Linked DNA regions of Homo sapiens: all the other regions are reported to be linked to region 3. Evidence: microRNA targets listed by miRTarBase, many of them from high-throughput screens and not tested one by one. Region 3 holds a microRNA gene; each other region holds the end of a gene's coding sequence.
The links. Region 3 holds the annotated microRNA hsa-miR-6762-5p (CGGGGCCAUGGAGCAGCCUGUGU, at 3,588-3,610, shown strand). A microRNA usually pairs through its seed, bases 2 to 8, with sites in the 3' UTR of a target mRNA and lowers its output. Matches are read on the target gene's strand: a 7mer-m8 pairs with bases 2 to 8, a 7mer-A1 pairs with bases 2 to 7 and ends in A, and an 8mer does both.

Region 1 (5,507 bases), not on the chromosome of region 3:
GGGGGCCTTCCAGGCTCAGGGAACAGCCTGCAGAAAGACCCAGAGAAGTGAAGACACTGAAAGGCCAGTGTAGCTTGAACACAGGATGGAGGAGATGAGGTTGGAAGAGTGGCCAGGGGCCACAGCAAACAGGGTCTTGTAGGCCACAGTTTAAAAAGAGTTTAAATTTTAAATGCAAAGGGCAGTTATTGAAACCCTAGGTATGGTGATGTGCTCATAATTGCTAAGATGTTTTCGATTTCTGGTTGTTGCTTGGGGAGCAAGAATGGAGGCAGGGAGGCCAGGTAAGAAGCTGAGCTGTCAGGACAAGAGATGATAGTGACTAGACTTAAGGGGATGGCAGTGGGACCAGAAAGTCAACTTTTAAATTTTAGTGAGAATTGCTTTGTACGCAGGCCACTACATCTCTACCCTGAAACTCCCAGGTCTTCAGAGCAAAAATACTAACCCTGGAGCTCTCAGTTTTCCTGGCTTACTGCGTAAGCAGCAGCAGCAGCTGATATAAGCCTCTGGGGTTAATGACTCTGCATCAACTCTATCCTCCCCAGGACAGAGGCCATCTAGCCCCCAACCCTGCCACTAGTGGACCCCGTTGGCTGAAGCCAGGACCCTGAGCCCAGACTATAGCCAGCCCAGCTGAAGACACAGGGTCTGGGATCTGAACCTGAACCAGCTTGTTCCTGGGAGGCTTCTTACCTGTACTCTTTATCCTTCAGGCTTCCGTATCCATGATTATTTGTACTTTCAAGTGCTGAGTCCTGGGGACATTCGATACATCTTCACAGCCACACCTGCCAAGGACTTTGGTGGTATCTTTGTAAGTTAAGGGAGGCCCCTGATCTCTGATCCTCAACCTCCCCCTTCCCCTCACTGAGCTGCAGTGACCCTCTCATCCCACCTGAGTGCTGGGACAGGGAAGGGAGCAGAATCAGCTCTGCCTTCCATGAGCTGCAGCACAGAAAGGAAGCTCTTCCAGCTACTCCCCTGAGTATAATATAAACCTAGGCACCATGGAGGGACAAGTTGTCTTTTTAGGGGACATGAAGTGAAAAGCCAAGAGCACCAGCTTCCTCTGCCAGCTCTACCTGTGAACTATGTGACTTAAGGCACATCACTTCCTCTCTCTGGATCTACAACCAAGTCCCCTGCCTATCTCATAGAAGGGTAGGGTGGTGTAGGACAACCAGATAGGCCTTTGCGAGAATTAAGTAAAAATGTTTAAGTGTCTGGCGATACAGAAACCACTCCATGTTTCCTTCACACTTTATAAGGTGCCAATAAGATGGGATTGTCAGCCCAGTCCTAAAGCAGGTGTGTCTCATTACACTCTCACCTGTCCAAATGTTAAATGTTTTTCAGCACACAAGGTATGAGCAGATTCACCTTGTCCCCGCTGAACCTCCAGAGGCCTGCGGGGAACTCAGCAACGGTTTCTTCATCCAGGACCAGATTGCTCTGGTGGAGAGGGGGTAAGGAGTGGGCAGGCAGGACACGAGGAGTGGGCAGGCATACGGCAGATTCTGAGATTATTGGTAGTAGTGCTTTGAAAGAGCTGTTTTTGAAAATTTCATCTTTTTAAGCGTCTTTAAGAAATGTCTAGCCTGGGCAACATGGAGAAACCCTGTCTGTACAAAAAATACAAAAATTAGCTGGGCATGGTGGTGCACACCTGTGGTCCCAGCTACTCGAGGCTGAGGTGAGAGGATTGCTTGACCGCATGTTAAGGCTGCAGTGAGCCGAGATCACGTCACTGCACTCCAGCCTGGGCAACAGAGCAAAACCCAGTCTCCAAAAAAAAAGAAAAAGGAAAAAGAAATGTATTTAAATTATCCATGCTTTTAGCTATTTACTTATGAGCCTTTATAACAGATTCTTCATAGTCTGCCTTCTATACTCCCAGGGTGATGGTCTGGGGAAGGGGGAGCTAGGACCTGTCTTTCCTTTGGTCTTATCACCACCTCTTCCAGGGGCTGCTCCTTCCTCTCCAAGACTCGGGTGGTCCAGGAGCACGGCGGGCGGGCGGTGATCATCTCTGACAACGCAGTTGACAATGACAGCTTCTACGTGGAGATGATCCAGGACAGTACCCAGCGCACAGCTGACATCCCCGCCCTCTTCCTGCTCGGCCGAGACGGGTGAGGGCTCCTTGCCTCTGGCTTTATCAGCACCAGGCTGGGCGCCATGACTGGGTCAGGGGTAATCACCAGTCCCTTCTTGCAGGCCTCAACTTGGGGTGCTTCAGTTAGAGGGCAAAAAAAGATCTCGGGCTTTGGAACTCCCAGATTGATGGGGACAGTGGGGCATGATGGGGTACCAAGAAAGTGACCGTCACCACCTCTCTTCATGCCCTCCCAGCTACATGATCCGCCGCTCTCTGGAACAGCATGGGCTGCCATGGGCCATCATTTCCATCCCAGTCAATGTCACCAGCATCCCCACCTTTGAGCTGCTGCAACCGCCCTGGACCTTCTGGTAGAAGAGTTTGTCCCACATTCCAGCCATAAGTGACTCTGAGCTGGGAAGGGGAAACCCAGGAATTTTGCTACTTGGAATTTGGAGATAGCATCTGGGGACAAGTGGAGCCAGGTAGAGGAAAAGGGTTTGGGCGTTGCTAGGCTGAAAGGGAAGCCACACCACTGGCCTTCCCTTCCCCAGGGCCCCCAAGGGTGTCTCATGCTACAAGAAGAGGCAAGAGACAGGCCCCAGGGCTTCTGGCTAGAACCCGAAACAAAAGGAGCTGAAGGCAGGTGGCCTGAGAGCCATCTGTGACCTGTCACACTCACCTGGCTCCAGCCTCCCCTACCCAGGGTCTCTGCACAGTGACCTTCACAGCAGTTGTTGGAGTGGTTTAAAGAGCTGGTGTTTGGGGACTCAATAAACCCTCACTGACTTTTTAGCAATAAAGCTTCTCATCAGGGTTGCAACTGTGTCCTAGAATAAGAGCACACGGGTGGGCAGGACCTTCAAACTCACTCGTATCGTCCCATACTGTCGTTCTGAGGAAAGGAAACACCCACAGAGGACAGTGACTGGCCTAGGTCATTTGGGACCAGTGCTCAGACTGCTAGTCTTAGATCCCAGCACAGCTTCCTGCTAGGAGCCAAGGAAGCCCTGGGAAGCCAGAGTTCAGCCCCTCAGGAGAAGACTCATCTTAGAGCCTGGAACTGGGGGTCCAAACTGGACCTCAGGGCTAGGCATGGTGGCCCATGCCTGTAATCCCAGCACTTTGGGAGGCCGAGGTGGGAGGATCAGTTGAGGCCAAGAATTCAAGACCAGCCTTGGCAACAACATAGCAAGATCCCATCTCTACAGAAAAATTAAAAATTAGCTGGGTGTGGTGGTGTGAGCCTATAGTCCCAGCTACTCAGGAGGCGGAGGTGGGAGGATCACTTGGGCCCAGAAGTTCAAGGCTGTAGTGAGCTATGATTGCATTGCTGCATGCCAGCCTGGGTGACAAGGTGAGACCCTGTCTCAAAATTTAAAAACCACCCAAACTGGACCTCAGAGGACCCTTGCTCTTGGGCATTAGAACATTTGCATAGCAGGGTGTAAATAACAGTAGAGGTGAGCCCAAGCTGGTGAGCCTGGAGCTCCCATCTCCTACCATTACCTGGTCTAATTGGTATTCCTTTGCACCCACCTGTGCCTGCTGCACGCCCGGGGCAGCCTGCCCAGCCACTTGCCACAAAGCATTCCTGCAGAGGCCTCTCACCACTCACATTTTATTGAGAACAGTGGGCAGGGGGGCTGGGAGAGGAGTGCTGACCGTTGTGAAGGAGTAAGAACCCAATGGGTAAGGGGCCAGACAGGTTTCACCTGGCTCCATGGTCCAGGAAAGGGCCTGTGGGGTGGGCACCTGCCCTCTCTGGGATCCCTCAGCAGGAGAATGCAGCAGGCTCCTCCAGGAAAGGGAGGCATTGGGAGTGATGGGTTGTAATTCCCATAGCATCCAACCCAAGAGTGAGAGGGGTGGTGCTAATCTGGGGGTAGGAGGGGACAAGACAGGGCTACTCTCGAAGTATCTAGCCCAGCTCCTCGAGGTTTCTGGAAGACTTCAATGTTAGTCTGTGGAGACCCTAAAGATGGAGATTGAGGCCAGGAGAGCCCCTCACTGACCCATTTTAACTGGCCCCAGGAATACCAGAGCATCCTAATCTAAGGAGCGCAGGCCTGTCAAGCCCCAGGTCTCAGCCATGCTGCTGAGTGCTCATTGGGAAGCAGGTGTGAGAAAGGGTGATGACCCACTATGTGTCCCTCCTGAGGAAGGCAGAGGCCTTTTCCATACTCCATAAGGCCAGCCACTGTGCCAGGTCCTGAGAGGCAAGGCACGAGTCTGGGGGAGGGGTTAATCTCCACTTCCCCAGATGTCCAAATGGGGGTGTGGGTGGGGGAAGTAATCCCCCTGGTCCAGCATTCCCAGGAGACAGCCTCAGGGAAGGGGCTCAGGATGCCCAGATCCTCCTGCCCGCCTCTGCTTGCTGGGCCAGTGGTCAAGCAGTTGCCTTACCAGCCACAGCTGTGGTGGGGGGAGGTGAGGACGCCTCACCACCTCCCATCTCTGCTTCAATGAACTCGGTCTTTCTTTTACCCCTCAAAAGAAATCAACAGCAAGTTGAGAGGGGAGAAGCCTCAGGTGAAGGGGTGAGTATGGGCCGTGGGGCCGAGGGGAAGAAACACTGTTAGGCCCTGGCCCTGATTCCAGCCCCTCAAACCCTAGAGTGGAGGAACCTCAAGGGGAGGCCAGTTGTGAAAGGCTCAGTGCCAGTGCAGAGTCTGAGCCAACTCAGCAGCAGTGTCCAGGGCATGAGGTCTGGTGGGGGTTGGGGCCAGAGATCCAGGCTCTCTCCTACCCTCTAGCAGAGAGGGCTGGAATGGGGAAAGCAGGCAATGGGAGTGGGAAGTTCCCTCCAAGCCACTTCTCTGGGGGAAGAGCCCCCTTTTCTGGCAGGGTCTAGGGCAGGGCCCTTTCTGGGCAGGGCAACATCACACATCAGTCATCTCATCCCCCAGCTCTGCATCTTCTGGCTCTCCTTCCTCCTCCTCCTCCTCTTCCTCTTCCTCTTCTGAGGTCACATTGGGTTCATCAGCCTCTGCCAGGCATTTGGGACAGGAACAGACAAATAGATAGTTCTCCCTGCAGCGGTGGGGGATGGTGAGGGGGAAAAGTCAGGGAGCTATGGGTAGAGGACCCCAGAGCCCAGCTGCACAACCATGTCCCCAGCTGGCACCTGAGGATCTTGTGGCGGCTGTGGCGGCTGCGCTCCCGCTGACAGCAGTCCAAGTAGCTGATACAAATTTCCTGTAGGGCAGAGAAGTGCAGTCTGATGGTCTGTGCTCTTTTAAATGGCATAAGGACCTCCCCAACAGCTACCCTATCTCCAACCACTGCCCCATCTCTAGGAGCCAAGTTTGCGTTGCCCTTCAGTGAAGGGGCTGGCTGCCCTCATCCAGTTCCCAGTGCCTTCAGTAGGCAGGCCACTATAAGGCTCCAACAGCCTGTGCCTGAG
Region 2 (5,507 bases), not on the chromosome of region 3:
GCTTCAGGTCCAATTCCGGACCCCAGGCTGGCCTCTGAAGGCTCTTGCTGGCCGTGGCTGGCCTGAGGACGCTTCTCCTGGCCAGGAGCCCTCCAAGGGTGCTGGACATGGGTGGGCCTGAATGCTCTTTGCCGAGATGAACTGGACCTGTCAAAGACACCTTCATGCAAATTTAGTGAGTGGAAGAGGCCTCAGGCCTAATTTGTGCCAGTTGGATTAAGGTGTGAGTGCAGTCTGATGGCAAATACGCTCAAATGAGAATCAGCTTAATGTAGCTCAGGCCTGGTTCTGATTAAATTGTTTCTCCTTCAACTGTTTGGAAACAGCGGCTAAAGGTCAATTTATTCCGGTGGTTGGAGGAGCCTCCGCTGTTTACCCGCCCTCCTTAGAGCCGACAGGCCGGAGCTGCTGGAGGAGAAAGCACTCGCCACTGGCCACTGCCCCTCCTCGGGGCCTCTGGCCGGCCTGGAGTGAGGGTTGGTCTGAGTGCCCAGGGCTTTTGCACCAGAGTGGGTTCCGGGAGGGCCACAGGTGCTGGAAAACGATGCTGGCTGCAGGAAGGAACTCAGAAGCTTGATCTTGGGCAGGGTCTTCAGGAGCTGGCCCTGCCCCATGTCCCCGGCCTCCTCCTTCCTCTGAGTCCTGTCCTTTCCCTGCAGAGCAGAGCCTGGGGGCTGGTGGGAGGGGGTTGCACTGACAGCGGACCCCCAACGGCTTCTGACCCTGACCCTGCCCTCTGTGCAGTTTGGCCTCTGGGCCTCATGGCTGGCCTGGCTGGCCATCACCACGCTGGCCTTCCTGAAGGTCTACCACAACTACCGTCAGGAGGACCTGCTGGACAGCCTGATCCACGAGAAGGAGCTGCTGCTGGCCCGGCCGTCCCCACGCACCTCCTTCCAAGAGGAGAAGAGCGCTGTCATTTAGGCACAGTGCAGGCAGGGGGAGCTGGCCCCGACCTCCCTGCTGCGCTCGGGGGCACGGGCCTGCCTGGGGAAGCAGCTGGGGGGCTCTGCCTGGGCCCTGGCCACATGCAGCCCTGCGTGTGTCCCCTCGACGCCACGTGTAGTGAGGTGAGCGCCCCAGTGCCCACCTGTGAGCCTGGCAGTGGACTGGGTGGGTGCCGGCTCCCTGATGAGGATGGTGCAGAGAGACTATGGGTGTGGGGCGGGGGCGGGGGGCACCTCCAGGCCTCGCACAGGGCCCCTTGGCTGTCCCAGTAGGACCTGACTGGCCAGCCTATGTGGAGGGCGTCCAGCTTGTCTCCCCCAACCCTGGCCGGATGCTGTCTCCATGCCAGCTGGCCCAGGGGTGGCCAGATGTCACTTAGCCCTGAACGAATTCTGCATGAATTCTGCCATCCAGGCAGAGGCTGCGTGTGGGGAGGAGCTCACGGCACCTTCCAGCCTCTGGCCCCAGGTTGGCCCCCTCCCCAGCTGAGTCCCCCTCCTGGGTGGGTGCCATAGGCCTGGGAGACCCTGTGGCCGGGCTCAGGGAGGCTTCTGAGGCCTGTGAGTTCACCTCACTGTGTGTGGGTCCTGTCTGTGCTTGGCTGAGGGTCAGGGAAGTGGTAATCTGGGCTCCACAGAATCGGGGGCATCATCTGGTTGGGGATTTCGGGGGCACACGTACCACATAGAGGACTGGGCCAGGAGCCATGGCAGGGGTCTGTGTGTGGGTGAGTATGGGAGGATGTGATTGTGAGTGCCTTTGTGCATGGGAGGGTGTGATTGTGTATATGAGTGCATGAGAGGATGTGACTGAGTGTGCATGTGTGGGTGTGACAGTGCAGGTGTGACTGCATGTGAAGGTGTCACTGAGTGTGCACGAGAGGGTGTGACTGCATGTGAGAGTGTGTGACTGCATGGGAGGATATGAGTGTGCATGAGTGTGCATGTGAGGGTGTGACTGAGTGCATGAGAGTGTGACTGCCTGTGAGTGAATGTGTGACTGCATGTGCGAGTGACTGCCTGGGAGGATGTGATTGTGCATGAGTGTGCATGTGGGTGTGACTGCATGTGAGGGTGTGACTGTTGTGCGTGTGAAGGCTTGATTGTGAGTGTGCCTGGGAGGATGTGAGTGTGAGGGTGTGACTCCCTGTGACATGAGTGTGCATGCATGTGAGTGTGAGGAAGAGTGTGTAGGTGTGAGTGTCTAGGCAGGTGTGTCTGCAGTGTGTGCAGCATGTGCGTAAGTGCATGTGAATGTGCGTGTGTTGCATGTGAGCATGTGCACGCCTGTGCGTGTGAGCATTGTGTGCGTGATGGGAGCCGTGGGTGCTGTGTGGACAGCCCCTCTGCCCCTCCCATGGGCTCCCACGCCCAGCATCCACCTGAGAGAGGAGGGAGCTGCCTTCCCATTCTGCAGAGTCTGTGTGCTGAGGCCCCGCAGAAGCAAGTGGAGGAGCTGGGATGTGAACCTGGGACCCCGGCGTAGGGGGCTGCTTGGCTGTGGACCCTGCCCCTCAGGAAAGCCCAGGGTCCACCTCCAGAGGACTCGTTCTGGGGCGGGGGCGGAGGCGGGGGGCCTCCCCACCCGGGGCTCGATGAGGGGCTGTCCGTTTCTTGGCTCGAGTGCTGCCAAGTGCTCCCTGCTGCTGCGCCCACCTTCCCGGGGAGAGGCGAGCCCCTGGCTCCCTGAGTTCATGACCCACCCTGTCCACCATCAGCAGCTGGCTTGTGTCTCTGGGTGGCTGGGCACCAGCCTCCTGGAGGCCACGTGCCTGGGTCCACATGGAGGGTCCTGGTGGGGGCATCATCCTGGGTCCCGGGAGTGAGGCTGGCAGGTGCCCATCGGGGGTGTCAAGTCCAGGGGGATCGAGGCTCTGGAAGCTCAAGGGGGCTCTGGCCTTGGGGACCAGCTGAGTTTCCAGCTGGCAGCCAGGTCCTCGAGGGAAGGGGTTTGGACAGAATCCGAGGCCCCCTAAGCTGATGGGGTCCCCTGTCTCCCCTTCCAGCCCTGACCCACTGGACATGGGGACTCTTTCCAGTCCGGAGAGCTCCTTGTCTGTGTCCCCAGCAGAAGGTGGGGTGGCTCCTGCCTCACCCTCTGCCCAGCCCTGATCCAGGCCACAGCCATCTAGGGCCCTGAAGGAGGGGCAGGAGGCAGGGGTGGCTTCTGGAACCTGAGGCTTGGCCCCGGTTGGGTCTGTTCTTGGGGGCTGCACTGCTGGATCCCAGGAGCAGGTGTGGAACAGCCCCATGGCCAGGGTGATGGAAATCCTCGGCTGCATGCAGACATAGACCCACCCTGGACTGGGCTGTCTCCGGAGCCCAGACACATCGCCCTGGGAAGGGGCAGCTGGGCCTGCAGTGTGCTGGGCAGGGGCTGGCGGCCCTGGTCGTGGGCTCTCCAGGGTCCCTCAGGGGATTGGGCCTCTCCCCAGGCAGGAAGGTGGGAAGTGCAGGCATGACCCGGGGTTCCTGAGGCTGGTCCACCAAGTTGCTTCTGAGACGCCTTCGCTTCTGTCCTGGCTGGCTGTTAATGATATCCCTGTTCTAATTCCACTCTGGCTAAACTGAAAGTAAAGATCCTTAAGCTTACATGTGTCTATTCCTCAAAATCAAAATAAAAACAAAAGCACCCGAGTCTCCAACAGGGATGAGGAGGAGCGTGTGGGGCTTCTGTCTGCCCTCTCCGCTGTTGGCTGGCCTGGCTCGTGGTTCTAACTGTCTGTAATTTGTGGGTCACACACAGTTTGCTCAGGCTTTGAGCCTTTCGTGTCCGAAGCTTTTAGGAATTAGAAGTTGGCCTTCCCGAGGTTCTGCCTTCCTCTCTGTACATTTTCTAGTGGCTTCGAGTCTCACTGCTTCCCATGCAGCTTCCCCAGGTGGGAGGATCCATTTCGAAGGATCTCTTGGGGGTGTGGTGCCCATCTTTGAGCAATGTTTATTCGAAAACACCTGAGGTCGTAGCGTGGGACCCCGCAAAGCCAGGCACGTCCTTGCGTTGCCTTTGCAGTGGACAGACAGCAGCGGCTGGGGGAGATCGGCCTGTGCGGTGTCCCCCGTCAGAACCGGGGCTGGAGGGGTGTCCCAAGCACACAGGGCTGAGCCTGGGCCTGTGACTGCTCTGAGAGACCCAACCTCTGGGAGCCGCTGCTTCTGCATCCAGAATATGGGGCAGGAACCTGCCCATCCTCCTTCCTGGGGTGGGGTGGGATGGGCTGGGCCTGGGGAGAGATGCTGGAGGGTCCCCGGGGGAGCCCCCACCATGGTCCCTTCTGGGCCACTTCTGGAAACAGCCCCTTTTGTTACCTCCACCCGCAACTCTGGGCTCCCTGGATTCCAAAGCTGGAAGTGACCCTGGAGACCACTTCACCTGTTCCCTGGCACCTGGAGTTGCAGGGACACACCCTGACTGCAGGGCAAAGGGAGCCGGCCGGGCATCCCTCAAGACCCAGGGGCTTGGTCAGCCCCTGCCCGAGTGGACACATCCACTCCCAGGCCTGCAGGAGATGGGGAGGTTCCAGGCGCCCAGGACATCCGCTTTGGCCACTGAGGCCGATTCCTTAGCAAATCGGTTCTGGTTTCTCTCATTTCTATAAAAACACCAAGACTGAAGGAAGCCACGGTGTGTTTTAATAAAACAGTGTCTCCCAGTTAAGTGGTGGGACAAACAGGAACCACCGGGTGGATGGTCGGCCGTGCCCACCCGCCTCAGGCTAACCTCGAGGACGCTGGTCTGATTGTCCCTGTGTCTCTCCTGGGCAGTTCTGCCTGGTGTCTAACCGTGGGCCTCCCTGCTTTGTTCAGCCCTCCCCCCACGTAGGGTCTGGAGAGGCCCCTGGTGTTTGTCATCCACAGGGCTCCCTTCAGCTCTGCAATCCGGCGACAAAGCCACAACCACAGACGGTCTCCGGGACCCACAGGCCCCAGCTGGTGGGTGGTGCTGGCTGGCCCCGGGCTCAGCTGGGTGTGCCTGGCCTGCAGAGCTGGGCACAGATGGCTGTTCTGAAGGTCGGGGGTGTCTGGGCCCCTTGCTGTCCCCTCGGCTTCTACACCTGAAGCCGCCCCTGATGAGGGGTCCTTCCCTGGGGCCTCTCCAGACTCACGGGGCTGGGTAGGGGGGTCAGACCTGGGCTCAGAGGATGGCACCTCACATCAAAGGGACCCACCTTGACAACCAGACCCTTCCCTCCCCGTGGGGTTTCGAGGTCTGGATTCCCCACAAGCCATAATCGCAAAAGGCTGGGTTTGCCTCCTCCGAGCAGCCCCTTGAACACGGGCAGTGTGTCCCCCTCCTCAAGAGGGTGCACACGGTGATGGCCGGGCCAGGCCCTAGCAGCAGCAGGAGTTCCTGCTGGGACGAGGGAGGGGTCTTTGGGTGAGCCTGGGGAGCCTCAACTGTTAGCAGTCGAATCCTCTTTCTAATAAAATCTCACATGGACCCAACACAGGAGACAGGAGGGCTGTGCTGACTAGTGTGGCGGGGCCGCCTGCTGTGCCCCCCATGTCCGATCTCACGCCACGGGGTCCCCCTTTTCCTAGTTAGCCCTCAGGCAGCAGCCC
Region 3 (5,507 bases):
GCCCAGCCGGTGTCCTGGGGCTGCCACCATCCCTTCCCTCATGCATGAATCACCTGAGCCCAGCTCAGGGTTGGTGGCGCCCAAGGGAGTGGACGCAGGTGGAGGAGAGGCCCTCACCTGTCTTCACCGCATGGCGTGTGGAAGGCGGGGCCGGCATGTTCTGAGGGCGGGGGCTGAGGCGTGCACCTGTGTGTGGAGGTGACGGGTGTCCTCCTCGCTCAGGTTGTTTAAGTTGAAGGAGCGCTACCGCAACGTGCTGGACACCATGTTCGAGCTGCTGCCCCGGATGGCCAGGTACTGCCAGCCCCCACCCTGGCCTGCAGGTCCAGGTGCCGTGTGGCAGTGCCCCGTGGGGGCGGGAGCCGAGTGGCAGTCGGGGGAAAGGAGTTCCACAAAGGACTGCAATCGAGGGCCTGACGGGGCTCCAAGGAGCCTGGAATCTTGACCACCACAGGTCTCCTGGGCACCATTTTTCTCCACTGACCTGTCTGACATATTTAGTAGGGAGGGCAGGGAGCTGTCAACTCGCTTACCACCTGTGTCTACATTCACAGGTAAGGGGTCACCTGTGAGTCTACCTTCACAGGTAAGGGGTGAATCTCTGGGAAAGGGGCATTTGTTCATAGCGTCCTGACTTGAGCTGTTTTTCACCCCAGAGCTGCCCCACGAGGCCCCTTCCCCGCAGGCACTTTCCAGTTGGTGAACCGACCAGGGGCATGGCCCTGCAGTCAGCCCCACGGGTCCGAGGAGGCCGGGGCTGCAGAGGAGCCGTTCCCTCCTGCCGGCCCCGCGTCACCCTGCCCCTGTCGCCCCACAGCCTGGGCCTCACCCTGCTCATCTTTTACTACTCCTTCGCCATCGTGGGCATGGAGTTCTTCTGCGGGATCGTCTTCCCCAACTGCTGCAAGTGAGTAGGCCCCACCCAGCCCCAGGCAGCCTGCATTTCCCGGGCAGAGGGCTGGCCAGGGCCAGGATTGGTGTCCTTGTGGCCTTGGGGTCCTCGGGGATGTTCCTGTCTAAGCAACCACCTTGCTTTGCTTTCAGGGCTTAGTTGAGTGCAGTGAGCTAAATGAGGGGCCTGGACTCGGGGTCCCTGTTTCTCCATCCCCCAGGCAGGGTTGGGAGCTGTCAGCTCACCCTCTGCCGAGGGCTGGAGGCCACCCCCACAGTAGCCTGGGTCCCAAGGTCAAGTCCCATGGCTTCCTCCCACTTCTCTCCTGGAGTGGCTGGGGACCTGGGCCAAGACCAGTCTTCTAGGGACAGCATCGTAGGATAAGACAGACGGACACGTGCAGGAAGGTCATGGTGCTCAGGGATGGGGAGCAGAGAGTGAAATCTCCCATGAGCACTCCCTTTCTCCTGAGCCGCCACAGTGAAATCACTGCACACTGCCATTCATTCATCCTCAATTCAGAGAGTCCTCTTACATTTGGTCTTTACAGCCTCAAGCACCGATGAAGAAACAGTTTTACAAAGACACTGGTAGCTTTGAGACCCAGTTTGAGTGTCAAGCTTGGTCTGGAACCAGAAGCCTATAGCAGTGGGTCCCAGACTTTAGAGCCCATTGCAGTCACCAGGGAGCTTAGTGCAAGCTCCAGACCTCACTCTTGTGTCTGATGCATGCGTGTGGGAGGAGGCTCCCTGGTGGCCCAAGCACTAGACTTTTATAAACATTAGCATGGATATTAACAGAACAGCCATAAAAGATTGGAAGGAAAGTGGCAAATAAGAGCTCCTCAAAACAGGGCCAACCTTTTCAAATACTTGCTCAGGCCAAGTATTGGGGAAGCCCCAGTAGGGAATTCCTTCCCTGGGACTGTGGCCTAGTGTCCAGCCTCAAGAGCAGATCCTAGATGGGGCAGGTGCAGAGGAGGCCCTTGCCTCTCCTCCCTCCCCTGCAAGCAACGGTGAGAGAGAAGGCCCTGCCTGCAGCAGACAACTTCCAGGTGACAGAGGTGGGTCAGGCTGGCCAGGGGATCCCGCCAAGCCCAGCAGGCAGGAATAGCCAAGGGCATTCCTTCAGCAGGGACCCAGGCATGAGGTGGAGAGGGTTAGGCAGGAAACCAGGCTGCGGGCAGAACAGAAGGATCCTTGGCCAGAACTCGGTTTGTTTCAGACTTCTGTCCTCTCTGGAGGTGACTGATCGCCTTGTGACCCTCCCTCCTTTCTCCCTTGTGCTCCGGCCAGCACGAGTACAGTGGCAGATGCCTACCGCTGGCGCAACCACACCGTGGGCAACAGGACCGTGGTGGAGGAAGGCTACTATTATCTCAATAATTTTGACAACATCCTCAACAGCTTTGGTGAGTGGGAAAAATCACAGGGGGCACATTCCCTGGGGACCCCACCCTTGTCACCCTTGTCACCACGGGTCCCAGAGGTGGTGTAGCAAGTGTCTGGGCCACACTTTCTGGAAGCCTCCCTGGCCCAGGTGGAGGACTTGGTCTGCCCAGCTTTGGCAGTACAGTCCAGGCTGGATCCTGGAGCTCACTCAGTTGCCTGATTCCACTCTTTCCTGATATTTTCTCAGTACCGGGGAGGACAAGAGTTGCAAGCCTTAGCTGGGCGGGGTCCCCTCATCACAGTGCCACTTGCAGAATGGGACCCAGCCACACCACTGCTGCTGCAGCTGCACTGCCCCCTGGCTCAGACTGCACACAGCCCTCTGCCCACTCCCATGAAGAGGCGAACACAGCCAAACCGCCTCTCCAGAAAAAGGGTGTGCCCCCATGACACCCCAGATCTGCACCCAGTAAGATCCAGATAGTCTGATGTGGCACAGGCTGCTGAGGCAGAGGGTGTGTTCTCTTGGGGGCAGGCCATGATGTCCTGTGGAGCCAGCGCCCTAGGAGTGCCTTGCCTGGTCTTTCCTGGAGCTCACAACCCAAGCGGTCATATGGTGACCCTCTCATCTTAGCACATGGCACCCAGGATAGGTGGCAAGAGGCCACTTGAAATTGACTTTGAAGTGGGGTCTCATCAGGATGCTTCTTTCTCTCTTCCCTCGGCAGTGACCCTGTTTGAGCTCACAGTTGTCAACAACTGGTACATCATCATGGTAAGAGCTCGGGCAGCTCTGGGGGTATCTTCCCGCCAGCCCTGGGGTCGGCCCTGGGTCTCCCCCAACCCAGAGTATATAATTCTTCCCGTAGCTTGCAGGGCTGGGGGTCTTGAGTCATGCTGTGTTGGTGTTCAGTGGGGAGGCCACAGGATGGCTGGGCCCCAGGAGCCACCCCTCCCAGTGTTGGCTGGACTCGGCTGTTACTCCCATCTCCCTGCATGTCCCCAGCAGCCAGGAGATGCCACTTAGACTCTGGGTCTCTGTCCTGTCTCGCCCACTGTAGAGATGACTTTTCCCTCTAGTGACAAAGTGGCGAGCATTGCTGATCTCTTTATTCCATTCCTTAAACTTTCCCGACTCCCAGCCCTACTGGGATAAAGGCTGCCCTGGTTCTGGATCCAGTCGTCCAGGGGAGTGGCCAGGGCTCCTTCAGCAGTCAGGAATTAGTGTTAGGCCCAGAGGGGCAAGCTTCCTCTCCTCCATCTCTCACAACCAGCCACAAATCACGGTGGGGTCTGCGAAGAGCCGGGGCCATGGAGCAGCCTGTGTAGACGGGGACCTGCCCTGCATGGGCACCCCCTCACTGGCTGCTTCCCTTGGTCTCCAGGAAGGCGTCACCTCTCAGACCTCCCACTGGAGCCGCCTCTACTTCATGACCTTTTACATTGTGACCATGGTAGGTCCCGGACCACAGAACGCTCTTTGTCCTTCGTCTTCCACATCACCAGCTGCCCCTGCTCTTCAGCCTGCAGCGTCAGGGAGTGGGGCTGGGTCCCATCTGGCCGGACTCTGTTGGGCGTGGGCTGCGCAGCCACGGACACCTACCCACCCTCCTCCCCTGCCTCTGCCCCTCCCTCCCTATCCCTGGCCAGGTGGTGATGACGATCATTGTCGCCTTTATCCTCGAGGCCTTCGTCTTCCGAATGAACTACAGCCGCAAGAACCAGGACTCGGAAGGTCTGTGCAGGGATGATGCCTTGGGCATTTGATATCTGCCGCCTACCCAGCTCTGTCTGTCTGTCTGGGTGGCTGTCCAGCCAGCCATCAGGCTGTCATTTTTCTGCTGTCTGGCTGTCCAGCTTATCTATCTGGCTTGTCTTTCTAGATCTTGTATTTGCATTGATTTTCAAATATTTAATGTCAGAAAACGTAATCTAACTTTAAAATAAGACAGAGCATGTCATAGTTGGAGAAAAATCAAGAAGTAGAGAAAGGCTTATGTGGCAGCAGCAGCCCCTGCCCTGCCTTTCCCTCCCGTCCTCCAGAGGCTTCTCCTTCTTGGCTATTTCTTCTGTTAGTCATCTCCACGTTTCTCAATAATAGGTTCACACTACGGTTCTTGATTTAAATGGTGTAAATATTGCTTATGGCACAGGCGAATCGTATTCCTGCTGCAACTGGATGGTGCTGGCTTTAGTGACTGCCTCACTCTTCCCAGATTGCACAGCTTTCTGTGTGCTGACCCTCCCTTCTTCCCAAATTCTCCATCAAAACTGTCTGCACTTGATCTCTTGAGCCCAGGAGGTCAAGACTGCAGTGAGCCATGATCACACCACTGCACTCCAGCCTGGGCAGCGGAGTGAGACCCTGTCTCTTAAAAGAAACAGAAAACCCTGTGCCCACACTTGTTACCTCTCATCCTCAGATCTCTGTGCTATCAGACCATCTGACCATTTTCTCTGTGCTTAGAGGCCCCTTCCTGAAACCCTCTGGCCCTGTAACAGCTGCCAGCTAGACCTGCGCTCCTGACATCACAGCAGAGGGAGGGGAAGGGAAAGGAGGGCCAACGAGGAGAGCAGGACACCAATGCAGTGTCGGTTTAGAGAGAGAACCTTAAGACCCCCTGCGGAAGGGGGCAAGGAGGTACGAGACCCAGCCAGGTTGGCAGCTGCAGCCCCGGGCCCTTCCCACACCTGCCTTCCATCCCTGCAGTTGATGGTGGCATCACCCTTGAGAAGGAAATCTCCAAAGAAGAGCTGGTTGCCGTCCTGGAGCTCTACCGGGAGGCACGGGGGGCCTCCTCGGATGTCACCAGGCTGCTGGAGACCCTCTCCCAGATGGAGAGATACCAGGTGAGGAGCCCAGGCCCTGGTCCGAAGGAGGGAGGCAGGTTTCAGTGTGGGTGGCATAATCCCTTCCCTCAGATATTGGTAACATTTTGAGTGACACAGTTGCAAAAGCCAGAGAAGTGGGAGACGCCAACTGTGGCACCAGGGGTGGGACCTGAATATCTGCAGCCGAGCCCTGCAGCCTCTGCTCTTCCTTAGCAACATTCCATGGTGTTTCTGGGACGGCGATCAAGGACCAAGAGCGACCTGAGCCTGAAGATGTACCAGGAGGAGATCCAGGTAGGAGCCTGGCCGACCACGCTGCGAATCCTCCCCCAAGCTATGTCCTGGGAGGGGCAGGGAGCTGCTCTCTGGCCCTCTGAGTAGAGGGAGAAGGC

Region 1: miRTarBase lists SMYD5 as a target of hsa-miR-6762-5p. Seed matches in the 3' UTR shown: 8mer at 4,822-4,829, 7mer-A1 at 4,656-4,662 and 7mer-m8 at 3,798-3,804.
Region 2: the mRNA of TMEM179 is a reported target of hsa-miR-6762-5p. Seed matches in the 3' UTR shown: 7mer-m8 at 947-953, 8mer at 1,408-1,415, 7mer-m8 at 1,419-1,425 and 7mer-m8 at 3,130-3,136.

What each region holds. Positions count from the first base shown.
Region 1 is chr2:73,225,423-73,230,929 of GRCh38, reverse strand. It overlaps SMYD5 (SMYD family member 5), which reads right to left. Exons shown (of 13, transcript NM_006062.3): 12 at 5,229-5,299; 13 at 3,709-5,134. The coding sequence ends at 4,984. It overlaps PRADC1 (protease associated domain containing 1), which reads left to right. Exons shown (of 5, transcript NM_032319.3): 2 at 717-817; 3 at 1,360-1,469; 4 at 1,968-2,135; 5 at 2,356-2,920. The coding sequence ends at 2,476. Among named protein-coding and RNA genes, the nearest start is that of PRADC1, 5.1 kb to the left of the region's middle.
Region 2 is chr14:104,588,896-104,594,402 of GRCh38, reverse strand. TMEM179 (transmembrane protein 179) reads left to right here. Exons shown (of 4, transcript NM_001286389.2): 4 at 745-3,539. The coding sequence ends at 924. C14orf180 (chromosome 14 open reading frame 180) reads right to left here. Exons shown (of 5, transcript NM_001008404.3): 5 at 3,888-5,507. Among named protein-coding and RNA genes, the nearest start is that of C14orf180, 12 kb to the right of the region's middle.
Region 3 is chr12:113,287,941-113,293,447 of GRCh38, forward strand. MIR6762 (microRNA 6762) reads left to right here and starts at 3,583; the gene lies at 3,583-3,668. TPCN1 (two pore segment channel 1) reads left to right here. Exons shown (of 28, transcript NM_017901.6): 20 at 223-294; 21 at 818-907; 22 at 2,188-2,303; 23 at 3,012-3,058; 24 at 3,669-3,737; 25 at 3,934-4,018; 26 at 4,994-5,133; 27 at 5,329-5,409.